2 separate regions of the Homo sapiens genome follow, and region 2 is linked to region 1. Evidence: fine-mapped expression QTL. Tissue or cell type: whole blood. Region 1 holds a variant in brackets; the other region holds the start of a gene. All regions are shown on one strand. Distances are from middle to middle.

Region 1 (7,989 bases):
TCTGGATCTTGTCAAAGACCACCAAGGCAGTACCTCTATGAGTCTGCAAGAGCCATAGCCTTAATGCGCTTGGGGTATCTCCTAATGCAGATACGGTTGCAGTGACCAAAAACTTAGATCACAATAGGCACTTGCCTTCAAGCATCTAGAAAGCCTTCCCAAGAAGGACAGACACAAACAAGACCAGACTGTGAAGACTACAATCAATACCTAACTCTTGAATACTCAGACACAAACAAACATCCACAAGCATCAAGACCATCCAGGAAAACATGACCTCAGCAAATGAACTAAGTAAGGCACAAGGAATCAATCATGGAGAGACAGAGATATGTGACTTTCAGACAGAGAATCCAAAATAGCTGTTTTGAGGAAATACAATGAAATTCAATATAACACAGAGAAGGAATTCAGAATCCTATTGATAAATTTAGCAAAGAGATTGAAATTATTTTAAAGAATCAAGAAGAAATTCTGTAGTTGAAAAATTCAATTGACATACTGAAGAATGCATCAGAGTTTCTTAACAACAGAATTGATCAAGCAAAATAAAGAATTAGTGAGCTTAAAGACAGGCTGTTTGAAAATACAAAGAGAGAGGAGACAAAAGCAAAAAGAATGAAGCATGCCTACAAAATCTTGAAAATAGCTTCAAAAGGGAAAATCCAAGAGTTATTGGCCTTAAAGAACAGGTAGACAGACAGGGATAGAAAGTGTATTCAAAGGGATAATAAAAAAGAACTTCCCAAACCTAGAGAAAGATATCAATATTCAAGTAGAAGAAGGTTACAGAACATCAAGCATATTTAACACAAATAAGACTACCTCAAGGAATTTAATAATCAAATTCCCAAAGGTCAAGGATAAAGAAAGGATCCTAAAAAGCAGCAAAAGAAAAGAAACAACATACAATGGACTTCCAGTATATCTGGCAGCAAGCTTCTCCGTAAAAATATTACAGGCCAGGAGACAGTGTATTTAAAATGCTGAAGGAAAAAAAAACTTTTATTCCAGAATAGTATATCAAGCAAAAATATCCTTCAAACATGAAGGAGAAAGACTTTCCCAGACAAGAAAAAAAGCTGAGAAATTTAAACATGAAACCTGTCCTATAAAAAATGCTAAAGGGAGTTCTTCAGTCTGAAAGAAAAGAACATTAATGAGCAATAAAAAGTCATGTGAAAGTACAAAACTCACTGGCAATAGTGAATACATAGAAAAACACAGAATATTACAACACCATAACTGTGACATGTAAACTACTCATATCTAGAGTAGAAATGCTAAAATATGAACTGATCAAAAATAATAATTACAACAAGTTTTCAAGACAGGCAGTACAATAAGATAAAAATAGAAACAACAAAAAATTTAAAAGCAGGGAACAATGTTAAAGTGTAGAGTTTTATTAGTTTTCTCTTTGTTTATGCAATCAGTGTTGACATCAGTTTAAAATAACGAGATATTATATTATTTGAAAGCCTCATGGTAACCTCAAATCAAAGAACACACAACAGATACACAAAAAATAAAAAGCAAAGAATTAAAATGTGCCACCAGAGAAAATCACCTTCATTAAAATGAAGACATTAGTAAGAAAAGAAGGAAGAGAAGACCACAAAACAACCCAAAAACAAATAAAATGGCAGGAGTAAGTCCTTACTTACCAATAATAACATTGAATGTAAATGGACTAAACTCTCCAATCAAAAAACATAGAGTGGCTGATGGATTAAAAAACAAAAACAAAAACAAAAACAAGACCAAATGATCTGTTGCCTACATGAAACACACTTCACCTATAAAGACACAACATAGACTGAAAATACAGGGATGGAAAAAGATATTCCATGCAAATGGAAACAAAAAAGAGCAGAATAGATTGATGCAAAAAATATATTTCAAGACAAAAACTATAAAAAGAGACAAAGAAGGTCATTATATAATTATACATGGATACATTCAGCAAGAGGCTATAACTACTGTAAATGCACCTCACACTGGACCACTGAGATATACAAAGCAAATATTATTAGAGGTAAAGAGAGAGATAGACCCCAATACGGAATAATAGCTAGAGACTTCAACATCCCAGTTTCAGCACTGAACAGATCACCCAGACCAAAAAAAAAAAAAAAAAATCAATGAACATTGGACTTAATCTGCACTATAGACCAAATGGACATAATAGATATTTACAAAACATTTCATCCAATGGCTTCAGAATATACATTCTTCTCCTCAACACATAGATAATTCTCAAGGATAGACCTTATGTTATACTACAAAGCAAGTCTTTAAAAATTCAAAACACTTGAAATAATATCAAAGTAACTTCTCTGACCACAATGGAATAAAACTATAAGTCAATAACAAGGGGATTTTGGGAAACTATACAAACACATGGAAATTAAACAATATGCTTCTAAATGACCAGTGGGTCAATGAAGAGATTAAGAAGGAAAGTGAAAATTTTCTTCAAACAAATAATGAAAACACAACATATTAAAGCCTATGGAATATAGTAAAAGCAGTACTAAGAGGAAAGCGTATATCTTTAAGCCTACATCAAAAAAGTAGAAAATCTTCAAATAGACAACCTAACCATGCAAGTTAAAGAATTAGACAAGCAAGAGTAAACCAAACCCAAAATTAGAAGAAAAGAAATAATTAAGATAAGAGCAAAAATTAATGAACTTGAAATGAGGAAAACAAAAAAAATCAACAAAATGAAAAGCTGGTTTTTTTAAAAGATAAACAAAATCACCAAAACTTTAGCCAGATTAACCGAAAAAAAGAGAGAAGAACAGATAAATAAAATCAGATATGAAAAAGGAAATATTACAACTGGCACTGCAAAAATTCAAAGGATTATTAGGGGCTACTATGAGCAAATATACACCAATAAATTGGAAAGCCTAGAAGAAATGGATAAATTCCTAGACACATACAACCTACCAAGATTAAACTTGAAAGAAATCCAAAACCTGAAAATGTCTGAACAGACTGGTAAAAGTAATGAGATCAAAGCTGTACTAAAAGGTCTCCTAGCAAAACAAATTCCAGGATATGATGGTTTCACTGCTGAATTTTACCAAACATTTAAAGAAGAACTAATACCAATCTTACTTGAACTATTTCAAAAGATAAAGGAGGAAGGAATACTTCCAAACTCTTTCTATGAGGCCAGTAATACCCTGATACCAAAACCAGACAAAGACACAGAAAGAAAGAAAGAAAGAAAGAAAGAAAGAAAGAAAGAAAGAAAGAAAGAAAGAAAGAAAGAAAGAAAGAAAGAAGGAAAGAAGGAAAGAAAGAGAAAGAGAACGAACAAACTACAGGCCAGTATCACTGATGAATATTGATGCAAAAATTCTCAACGAAATACTAGCAAACTGACTTCAACAACACATTAAAAAGATTATTCATCATGACCAAGTGGGATTTATCCTACGAATACAAGGATGGCTCCA[T/C]GCACTTAAATCAATCAATGTGATACATCATATCAACAAAATAAAAGACAAAAATCATATAATCATTTCAATTGATGCTGAAAAGGCATTTGATAAAATTCAACATTCCTTCATGATAAAAACACTTTAAAAAACTGAGTATAGAAGGAAAATACTTTGACACAATAAAAGCCAAATATGACAGACCCACAGCTAGTTATCATACTGAATGGGGAAAAACAGAATGCCTTTCCTCTAAGATCTGGAACACAACAAGGGTGCCTACTATCACTACTGTTATTCAACAATAATTGAATAGAAGTACTATTGAAGAGGTACTAGAATAGGTACTATAAGTCCTAACTAGAGTAATCAGACAAGAGAAAGAAATAAAGGGCATTCAAGTTGGAGAGGAAGAAATGAAATTATCCTTGTTTGCAGATGATACGATCTTATATTTGGAAAAAACCTAAAGACATCACCAAAAAACTACTAGAACTGAAAAACAAGTTAAGTTTTAGGATACAATATCAACATACAAAAATCAGTGGCATTTCTATATGCCAATAGTAAACAGTCTGAAAAAGAAATCAAGAAAGTAATCTGATTTATAATAGCTACAAATAAAATACCTAGGACTTACACATGGGCTGCAAGAGCCAGAGCTTCCTGATTCCCAGCCTGGGAGCAGAGAGGGATGCTCAAGCTCAGGCCAACCACGCCCTGCCCTGGACTGACTTCATCCACCAGAGTCGGCTGCCACTTCTTCAGAAAGTTCAAGAATAACTCACCCCTTACTTAGCATATAATTAGGCACAGGCATTAATATAGCTAGCCAGCAGTCCACAAGTGCCACTCTGCCTATGGGATAGCTCTGCTGGGTCTATGGAGCAGCCATTTCACTGTACATTGTTGCTCCCATAAATGTGCTGTCTTTCACTGTTGGCTCACTCTTGAATTTTTTATTATACTTTAAGTTTTAGGGTACATGTGCACAACATGCAGGTTATTTACATATGTATACATGTGCCATGTTGGTGTGCTGCACCCATTAACTCATCATTTAGCATTAGGTATATCTCCTAATGCTATCCCTCCCCCCTACCCCCACCCCACAACAGGCCCCAGTGTGTGAATTCTTTCAGCTGAAGCCAAGAACCCTCCCAAGCTAAGCCCCCATTTGGGATTTCACCTGTATCAGGATGATGAGGAGACTTCCACTCCAGTTTTCTTTCCAAGGCCCAGAGCCGATGATGTCACTCTCTTTCTTAAACATCATGCGTAGTTCTTCAGTGATTCCCTGGCACCAGGAGAAGCAGCTTTCAAAGTCTTCCCATGGTATTGTTTCAAAACTAGTTATGCACCACATAAGGATGCTCCAGTCAATGACGGACTGCATATATGATGGTGGTCTGTTGTGCCAAACCCCTATAGACTCCTGTGGAGATGGTACCAGGTTCAAGAGGCCTAAGAGACCCAGAGCCAGCAAATGAGACATGGGGTTTTTTTAAATGGAGAAATACTATCTTAACACAGAAGAATCCTTAGTTTTAAAGGTCAGGAATCTGAATTCTGACATTGCATGGGACAGAGGGAATGGCAAATGCACTCAGTGATAACTGTATGTTGGCTACATTGAGTCATTTTCTCCACATTACTTAATATCTGATACTGAATGTACTGAGCTTGATAGATGTTTTGTTTTTAAGGATAAGTCACAATTAAATAGAAACTGTTTAATAATTTATCTTAGGTGAAAATGATCCTGGTATACAAGAAGTCCTGTGATGCCTAGCTTTATATCATTATTTATATGGACTACGAAGAATTATAATTCTGGTTTATAACCAACTATTTTTATGTCAAAACAAAACAAAAAGAAAAAAGCCATGAGAAGACATGGAGGAAACTTAAATGCATATTGCTAAGTAAAAGGCCAAACTGAAAAGGCTACAGACCATGATTCCAACTATATGGAATTCAGGAAACAGGAAAAACATGGAGATGGTAAAGAGAGCAGTGGCTGCCAGAGGGATGAATAAGTGGAGCATAGAGGATTTTTAGGGCAGTGAAACTAGTCTATATGATACGATAATGGTGGATACATGTCATTATACATTTGTCCAAATCCATAGACTGTACAACACCAAGAGTGAATCCTAATATGAACTATAGACTTCAGGTGATAAAGATGTCAATGTAGGCTCGTCAATTGTAACAAATGTACCACTCTAGTGAGGATGTTGATAGTAGAGGAGGTTATGCACACGTAAGGATAGGGAATATATGAGAAATCTCTGTAACTTCTCTCAATTTTGCTATGAACCTAAAATGGCTTTTTAAGTCTTAAATCAAGAAATTAAACGTATTAACTTCTATAAACACATTCACTACAAAGACTTGCATAATGCATCTTTAAGTTTGAAAACAGTTGAACATTTGTGAATGTCAATATGCAAACATCCTAGTAAAATACTGTTTTCCAGTTTCAAAGAAGGACACTAATTTCCCTGTTAATCAAATGTTTTGACAACTATGAAAAATACTGACCCTTAATAAATGACCCTGCATGGCTCCTTAACTCTAACACCTTTTTTTCTGTAAAGACAGGGCCTCACTATGTTTACCCAGGCTGGACTCAAACTCCCTGCCTCAAGTGATCTTTCTGCCTCAGCCTCCCAAAGTGTTAAGATTATAAGCGTGAGCCACCATGTCCAGCCAGACTATGATACTTTAATTTCACAAGTTTTCTACCTCACACTGGGAAGCCAAACTAAATTAGCCACTTGAAATAGAAATACTTTTAGGGGCCGGGCGCAGTGGTTCACGCCTGTAACCCCAGCACTTTTGGGGGCTGAGGTGGGTGGATCATTTGAGGTCAGGAGTTCAAGACCAGATTGACCAACAGTATTTTGTACTAAAAATACAAAAATTAGCCAGGCATGGTGGTCTGCACCTGTAATCCCAGCTACTCGGGAGGCTGAGGTAGGAGAATTGCTTGAACCAGGAGGCAGAGGTTGAAGTGAGATGAGATCGCACCACTGCACTCCAGCCTGGGCTACAGAGTGAAACTCTGTCTCAAAATAAATAAATAAATAAATAAATAAAAACAAATACTTTCAGGGATATTTTGTCTTTGATTTTTAACATAAACACTAAGCTAATTCCAATAACAGTTCCTCTGTTATGCTGGCACTGTTCCAAATAACAAATGCAGAGTATGTAGAGAAATCACATATTTATCAAATTTCAAATTGCCAAATATTACTCTTTAAGATGATTGTGATCTTGCTTCCCAATTACTTCATCATCAGATACATGCAGAAGGAACTCAGAATTGGCCTTTGTACTGTCTGCCCCTAACTTCATTCATCATCCTTGCTTGGAATACAGTAATTGCTACCACATCATAGTGAGGCACTTTGTGAATCAATGAACAGACCACAACTACCAGAAGATGCAGGACTATTAACTAATGCAGGACTATTAACTAACAGATTCAAACTTGAGACAGACTTCTCAATGAGAACAGAGATACTATCTAATATATGTTATGAATGTCCCATAAATAATGGCCCTTCAAGGACTATCAAAAGGGATATGCAAATCCTGACATTACTATGGTCACAGTTTGTTCCATATACTGTGTCACCTTTGTAGTATGATAAAAATGAACAAACAACATATAAATTAGCCCTCCTTTTGTTACCAACAAAGCTGGTCCTCCAAAAGATGGGGTCTTTCCCTGATGGGTGTCACAAAGCCAATACGTGAAACCAAAAAAGAGTGACAAACACTGCAGGTTTTATTCAATCGCCACTGAATTGAGAAGCAGGAGTATGGCTCACAAATCAACTTTTCAACTAATGAGGAGTGAGGGGGTTAAAATATAATTTTTCTAATAAAGGTGTTTCACATTCAAGCAAAGGGAGGAATATTCCTGGATTTTTCAGAAATGGGCAGTGAACTTCCTAAAACCAGAGTGCTGCCTTCCTTTTTGTCCTTTCATGGCTTCTTCTGGTCACTGTCATGGCGATTGTCAACTGTCATGGAGCTAGCAGGAGCGTTATTTAGCACAGAAATAAGATTATAAAAAGGCTGAGGTCTTTTTAAAGTCGTTTGGTCAGCTATCGTGGTTGTAACCAGTCTCCTCTGGACTGGTTACAAAAGGAACTTTTCATCACAGGCATCCTGTTTCTTAAAGATAAGCAGAGTTAGGGCAGGGTAAAAATTCAGCTATGTCACGCAGGAATTACATCAGGTAACATTTTTAAAGAAGAAATTTGCCAAAATATTAAATGAGTATGAGATACCCTTTTTCTAAAAAATAAGACATTTGAAGTAAAGATTAGTTGAAATAAAACAGTTCTACTAACTAAAGACAAGTAGTTCCCAGAGCAGGTGCATTTATTTTTATATGCAAATATATCACCCTTCAATGCATATACAATAGTTATAAGGTCTGAAAACTAAGTCTATCAGAGAGAATTGCAATCCCTTGACTCATATGTGTTCATCCTTCCATGGAGAGCCTCAT
Region 2 (6,494 bases), 25 kb after region 1:
AATTGTTTATTTCTGAAATTTTCCATTTAATATTTTTGGACCTCAGTTGACTGTGGGTAATGGAAACTGTGGAAAGTGAAACTGCAGATAAAGGAGAACTGCTATATACCAATCTGAGACCTTAACACACCACAACTTGCTACTTAACACAAAATAAGTCTGTCCAAATGCTCATGTAAAACGTTTACTGAAATAAGTAAAATGCAATCCTTTCAAATTCAGAACTATAAGAGAATATCAAAATGATGTAATATAGCTTGCTGGATTACACATAGAAATGATGACTTCAAGGGTGATTTTTCTAACTTGTTAAAGGACACTCAATTAGTAAAGAACCAGCTTGAAACCTATCTCTTCTGGCTTCTATCCCTGTAGTTTATCCAACATTTTATCCTGTCCATATTTCTGAAACGAGACATTTCATGTATGGTACAGACAACAGAGTAGCAAAATGGAAAGGGAACGGACTTTAGAATCAGACAAACCTAAGTTTAACTTACGACTCTGGTACTTAACAACCTGTGTGACCCTGGGCAAATGCTAAATCTGAGTCAGGATAAAAATGAGAGAAGACAGTAGCAATGATTTCACATAGTTGTTGCGAGGATTATATGTTAAAATTTCCAGTAGCTACCAGTAAGTAAGTGCTCAAAAACCTGTATAAGTAACCATTTTTTTATTTGAACTTCCATATACTATTGCCTCAGAACAAGCTTTCATATCAATCCTAGAGCTTCCCTGAAATAACCCTTTGCACTCCCATGTACCTCCATTGAACAGTTAAAAAAACATTCACCTTCAGAGAGACACACAGGTCCACATGTCAAACAAGGACATAGGTCAATACAGACTCATGATCCAAGAACTCTTAAGTGTTGAACCAAAGATGTGACTGTCTTCAACATTTTAAGGAAACACTCTTATTAACCTCCTACCTCTCAACCTCTCTATTATCCCCCTTTCTCTTTTTAACCCCATAGCCTTTTTCACCATTAAATATAGTATTTATTTTACTCATTGAGTCTCCTTATTGTCTGTCTTGCCCACTAGAATACAAGCAACATAAGTTCAGGCATTTCAGTTTATTTTCTTATTGCTAATTCCTAAATGACTGGTATAGTACCTGACATTAAGAGGCACTCAAATCTTTGTTGAATGAAGAAATTACTTTATTCAAATGGTTTTAGAAGCTATTTAATATATACTATCCAAAACAACATCTTGGGATAATCAGTCCTGTGAGTTTGCTATCTGCCTGTAAAAATCACTTATTTTTTCTTATTGTAAAAATAGGTTTCAATCTTCTATAAGTAATGATAATAAGTACAGAAGTTTAGAGATAAAAAGAATCCAAGAATTTTCTTCAGCTCTCTAATTTTACCCATGAGATAGGTCCAAAATCTGCCCAAGACTAATCCACTAGTCAGGACAGAACTGAATTAGCATTCAGGGCTTAAGACTTCCAATCCATTACCTTATCCCTAGACTCTGAAGACATAACTAACAGTTACCTTAACAATATTTTTCATGCTGAAGACAACAGTCCAATCCCTTTAACTTATTGGTTCTCTTGCTTGAAACTTCTCTAATTTTGTTCTTTTATAAATGGGTTTTTGCCATCACAGTTTATATAGTTTTTAAAAATGTTTTTTGCTCAATTTCCCAACACTTCAAAATACACAGCACTACCATATTAACAATACATTATCCAAGGTTAATAAATAGTCAAATTTTATTTTTATTATTTTTTTAGTGAGATGGGGTTTCACTCTGTTGCCCAGGTTGGTCTTGAACTCCTGGGCTTGAGCAATCCTCCCACCTCAGCCTCCTGAGTAACTGGGATTATAAACATGTACCACTGCACGTGGCTCATGGTTAAATTTTAAGAGAAAAAGTCTACTCACTGGTCACCGGGTGAAAAATTTAAAAAAAAAAAAATTTCTTAATTCAATGTTAAAAAGGGCTGATAATTTTTTAGAAAAGTAATTTCTTTGTACATGTTTACTAAGTATTTCTGAGCCTCATCTCTACTAAAAATTTAAAAAATTTGCCAGGCATGGTGGTGTATGCCTGTAGTCCCAGCTACTTGGGAGGCTGAGGTAGGAAGTTAGCTTGAGCTGGGAGATGACGTTGCAGTGAGCCATGATTGTCCCACTGCACTCCAGCCTGGGCAACAGAGCAAGATACTGTCTTGAAAAGAAAAAAAAAAGCAAGCAAGCAAGTTGGACTAATTGTATTACTAATCCAAAAGAAAACAAGCATACACAGAGTACAAAAACAACTTAGTTGTCAAATTAGTTTACAACTGACAACTTACCTTTATTTTACAAGCATGTGTGGAGGACTCCAATTTTAGATTTTTTTTATACAAAATGATCTTTTCATGTTCACTAAAAATAAAAAAGAATTAATTTTTTTTACTTACATATATTGTCACTTTTAATAGTTACACTTAAAAATAAATGTTTCCAGAACAATATTGAAATCCTAAGATTCAGTTTTCCTGGTGAGGCATGAAGAGTTGGGCTCCATAACTGAAGCACACTGCCTATGATTACATCTACCACTTACTAGGCTCAATGAGAAAATTACATTATATAACATATGTACAACCATGTAGCCAGACTGTATTTTAAAGCTCAATAAACACAGCAATTGTTTCCAACATGCAGGATATAAAACAGTTCATATTTTGTGTTAAAGACAGATTGGAGAAAAATCTTCGTAAGAAAAAAAATCACAAGTTGCGTTACAGGTTAATAAATAGGTTTATGTAGCACAGTCTTAGATCCCTCCACCATTTCTAATAGGCTTCCAAGAAGAAAATGTATTCAAAGTTCCAGACTGACTACCAAATTAACTTTCGGAAGACAGACTGCTGTGAGTTTAAGGAAAGAGACACACTTCTCAAAATTTCATTCTAATAAAACTCTTCCACTAACTAGCTATGACCTCCTACCAATTCACCTTGATTGTTAGTTCTAAATTTCAACATTTATAAAAATAACTAGGCTGATCTACACTGTCTTTTAAGATCTCTAAAGTTGTAAACTTCTATGCCTACTGGCACATTTTTATCTTCTCTCCCATAACATATGGTATCAATATCAGAGAATCAATAATTATTGCAAAAAGTGAGAAAAATCAAAACACTACTTCAGAAGAACACTTTCCCGTGTACAAGTCACACACCTGTCATCCAGGACAGTACAAACATTCTTGCCCCTACTGGTTCCACAGTACTCCTCTCCTAAGTACACTTCCATATTTCTTGCTGAACTTAAAATGCCAATAGAAGCGATTTCTTCACCTCCATCAGGGCCACACCTCAGGTAAAGGAAGCAGGGGTTTTCATCTTTGTTGTTGTGGTTTCTCTTCAAAATCACCAGATCCTGACTGAGAAGAAAATTGGTGAAAACATCACACAGTATAGTTCTCTGAACATGACTCTTCTTTTTTGAGACGGAGTCTGGCTCTGTCGCCCAGGCTGGAATGCAGTGGCTCCATCTCGGCTCACTGCACGCTCCGCCTTCCGGGTTCACGCCATTCTCCTGCCTCAGCCTCCCAAGCAGCTGGGACTACAGGCACCCGCCACCGCGCCCGGCTAATTTTTTGTATTTTTCGTAGAGACGGGGTTTCGCCGTGTTAGCCAGGATGGTCTTGATCTCCTGACGTCGTGATCCGCCCGCCTCGGCCTCCCAAAGTGCTGGGATTACAGGTGTGAGCCACCGTGCCCGGCCGGGGCTTCTTTCTTCTAACTCACTTCCACTTGCCCTTGAGGTCCAAGCACCTTCCCAAGCATCCAAGAAGCGCTCAACACAGAATTCATACGGAAATGAAGGTGTCACACATCAGGGCTTTCCCAAACTCTATTTTTTCCTCAATCAACATTCTACTCAATCCCCTGCAATTGACTCTCGGATAATTACATAAATCACTGGGCACCTACTGGGTGCAGGGCACAATGAAAGACAAAAGTGTATCTTTTTCGAAATTAAGTCGACAGCGATCATCTATAGCTGGACTTTTTACACAGCCTGTTTTGGTGGACAGGAGGTGTCTTGTTTGAGGGTAGAGGGGCGGACTGACTTTGACAGCAGCCCTGAGGGGCTATCACGCCTGATGGGGACGTTATATGAAATTCCGAGTCCGGGTCACCTTCCCCCTCTCACGCCCAGGAGCCTCGGCCCCTTCCCGGCCGGACCCACCCCCCTCCGCCCACCCCGGACGACCTCGCAGCTCCCCTCCCCAACTAGAGACCTGGTACCAACTGCTCTCCCGGATCCCGGGCTCAGACCCTCTCGCCTCCCCTCACAGCTCCCCTAGAAGCGCGGCAGTTGCCGAGCATAGCGACCCCGTCCCCGTCGGCCCGGCGCACCCTGGAGCAGGCGGTGCCAGCAGCTCCTCCCAGTCGAAGTCACCGGGGCCGAGACCGGCCCGGGTGAGGAGGAGGCTGTGGGTCAGGGCCCCGCCTGCAACATCCCAAGAAGAGGCCAGCGTGGGGCGGCGGGTGAGGCCCCCGTCCTCGGTCCGCGTCTCCATTCCGCCGCCTTCAGTCAGGCCAGCCCAGCCCCGGAACCTCTCTTCCAGTGCTTGAATTTCCGCCGGTACAGCGTGGAAATGGGCAGGCAAAGCGACTTCCGGCTCACTCCGCTTCAAGTACCCGCCGCTTCTTGCTTTGGTGGGGAGAGCAGGCACCAGAGACACGCATGCGCATGTGCCAGCTGGCCTCAGGCGCGGCGTTCAAAGTGTGCGGGGAGGAGGTCGAGAGCGGAGCATGCGCACTGGCAGACCCTTGCTCTTTCGCTGGAGACTATGCGCAGGCGCGGTGCACTGCGCGCCGGCACGAGGGTGTTTTCGACGTTGGCTGTGGGGAAACAGCAAGCGGCGTGGACGACCGTTGCTGAGCTGGTGTGGAACGTCTGTGATCAGGTAGGTGTAGTCTCGTCGCTCTACGCTGCGTGCAAGACCGACTCCTGACCTCGTTCTTTCCCAAGGGGACGCCAGGGCCTTTTCTGCTTCCATTCCGTCGGATCTGCAGCATTTGTGGCAGCTAGCGCGGCGGACGCGCTGCCGATTCGGGTTATTTTTACTTCGAATTCTCCTAGCCTCCCTCACACATATTCTCGCTTTAGAGGGGGGCTGAAGCGGATGATGGGGTTTTGGGGTTGAAGGGCATCTGTGATGGGCATTGAGCCACGCTGGCCTTCGCCGGGTGCTGTCTCAGCTGACGCCCCCTGACCCCATGTGCAACCCTCAGGCCGCAGGAACCCGGGCATCCAGGGCTGGACGCTCTAGGTGACAGAAATTTGAAATGCAAGAAAGACCCAGACACCGAAGGCAGGGGCTGCCCCATGAGATCGCTCCTCATGGCACTGGAAACAGCGAGTGGAAAGGGGGGGTCTCAGAACTCTGTTGAAGTAGAATATGAACTCAGTCTTGAAGGAACTTAAGGCTACGGATGCAGAACAGTGGGAGCAGATGGAACTTTCTAGATGCCCCACGGGATGGGACTGTATATAGTGTGCCCCCTCATCCTCCTCCTGTAGAGGCTTGTGCAGATTATTTTTCTGTCTTTTGAAAAAAGCAAACTCTGAAATTCCACTTGTCTATAATCTAGAGTTCCAAAGTTGTGTTTAAGGTGGTATCCTCTCTAGGAAATAACGTTTTTGCTCACCCATACTCTAATTTTCTTTCAGAGCTGTCTATTCTGGGTTCATGACTCAGTGCGCATTACTTTAATCTTTTTGCTTATGTTTTCGTTTGAGTTTATGTACTAGGACTTGTGCCCTCTAGCTAAAAATGAGAATAAACTTTGCATTCTGTTTACCTGTGTCAAAGCAAGAAAAATGATGACCAAATGTATTTTTCTATAAGTAATCACCAGAATGTACGTATGGTAGGTGAATTCACCAAGATTGAAAGAGAGAAATGTCACCAAAGGTCTATCATAGCAGAATTGTAAAGTCCTCGTTTGCAAAGATTTTTTTAATATTTCAGACTCATTCTAAGTTGTCCTTGTCATTATTTTTGTCCTGTATGTCCTGCTTCCTGTGGTTGTAAGTTAACTTTGATCCACATTAATACATGTGGACAATCCGAAGGAAAATAGGCTCTTCAGAAACTAATCTGCAATTTCATGAGCAATAGCAATATTATAAACTGGATTTTGACTTCCTTAAATAAAGCTGAATGTCCAGGAATCAGAAAACAAAAGATTCCTATGGTCTATCCTTTCCTTTATTTCCATACAGCCAATAAACCACCAAGTCTTCATTTTCTTAAAGAAAAATTTTCCTATCTCTGCTTCTTCTGTTTCCAAGCACTAGCTTTATCTGAACAATTCCAGGAGTTTGTCAGTAGCTTTCATTTTGATTCCTTCCATTTCAGTCTTTGCACTGCCCTCTTCTCCTTCTGGTGATCAATGTTCCTGACTGAATCAACACCTTCACTCCTTAGCATAGCATGCAGAGTCCTTTGTACTTTGAACCCTG

What was found. PIP is the estimated chance that this variant, and not a neighbour inherited with it, causes the effect.
Region 2: C10orf88 starts here. The variant in region 1 is fine-mapped to the expression of C10orf88 in whole blood (INTERVAL, PIP 0.97).

The regions. Positions count from the first base shown.
Region 1 is chr10:122,923,667-122,931,655 of GRCh38, forward strand. It overlaps C10orf88 (chromosome 10 open reading frame 88), which reads right to left. Exons shown (of 6, transcript NM_024942.4): 6 at 7,235-7,989. Among named protein-coding and RNA genes, the nearest start is that of FAM24A, 17 kb to the left of the region's middle. The variant T/C (reference allele first, on the strand shown) is at 3,474.
Region 2 is chr10:122,949,637-122,956,130 of GRCh38, forward strand. C10orf88 (chromosome 10 open reading frame 88) reads right to left here and starts at 4,591. Exons shown (of 6, transcript NM_024942.4): 1 at 4,379-4,591; 2 at 3,193-3,396; 3 at 2,318-2,390. The coding sequence starts at 4,542. It overlaps LOC124902519 (a long non-coding RNA gene), which reads left to right and starts at 4,806. Exons shown (of 2, transcript XR_007062325.1): 1 at 4,806-4,932. RefSeq lists a silencer at 4,307-4,386.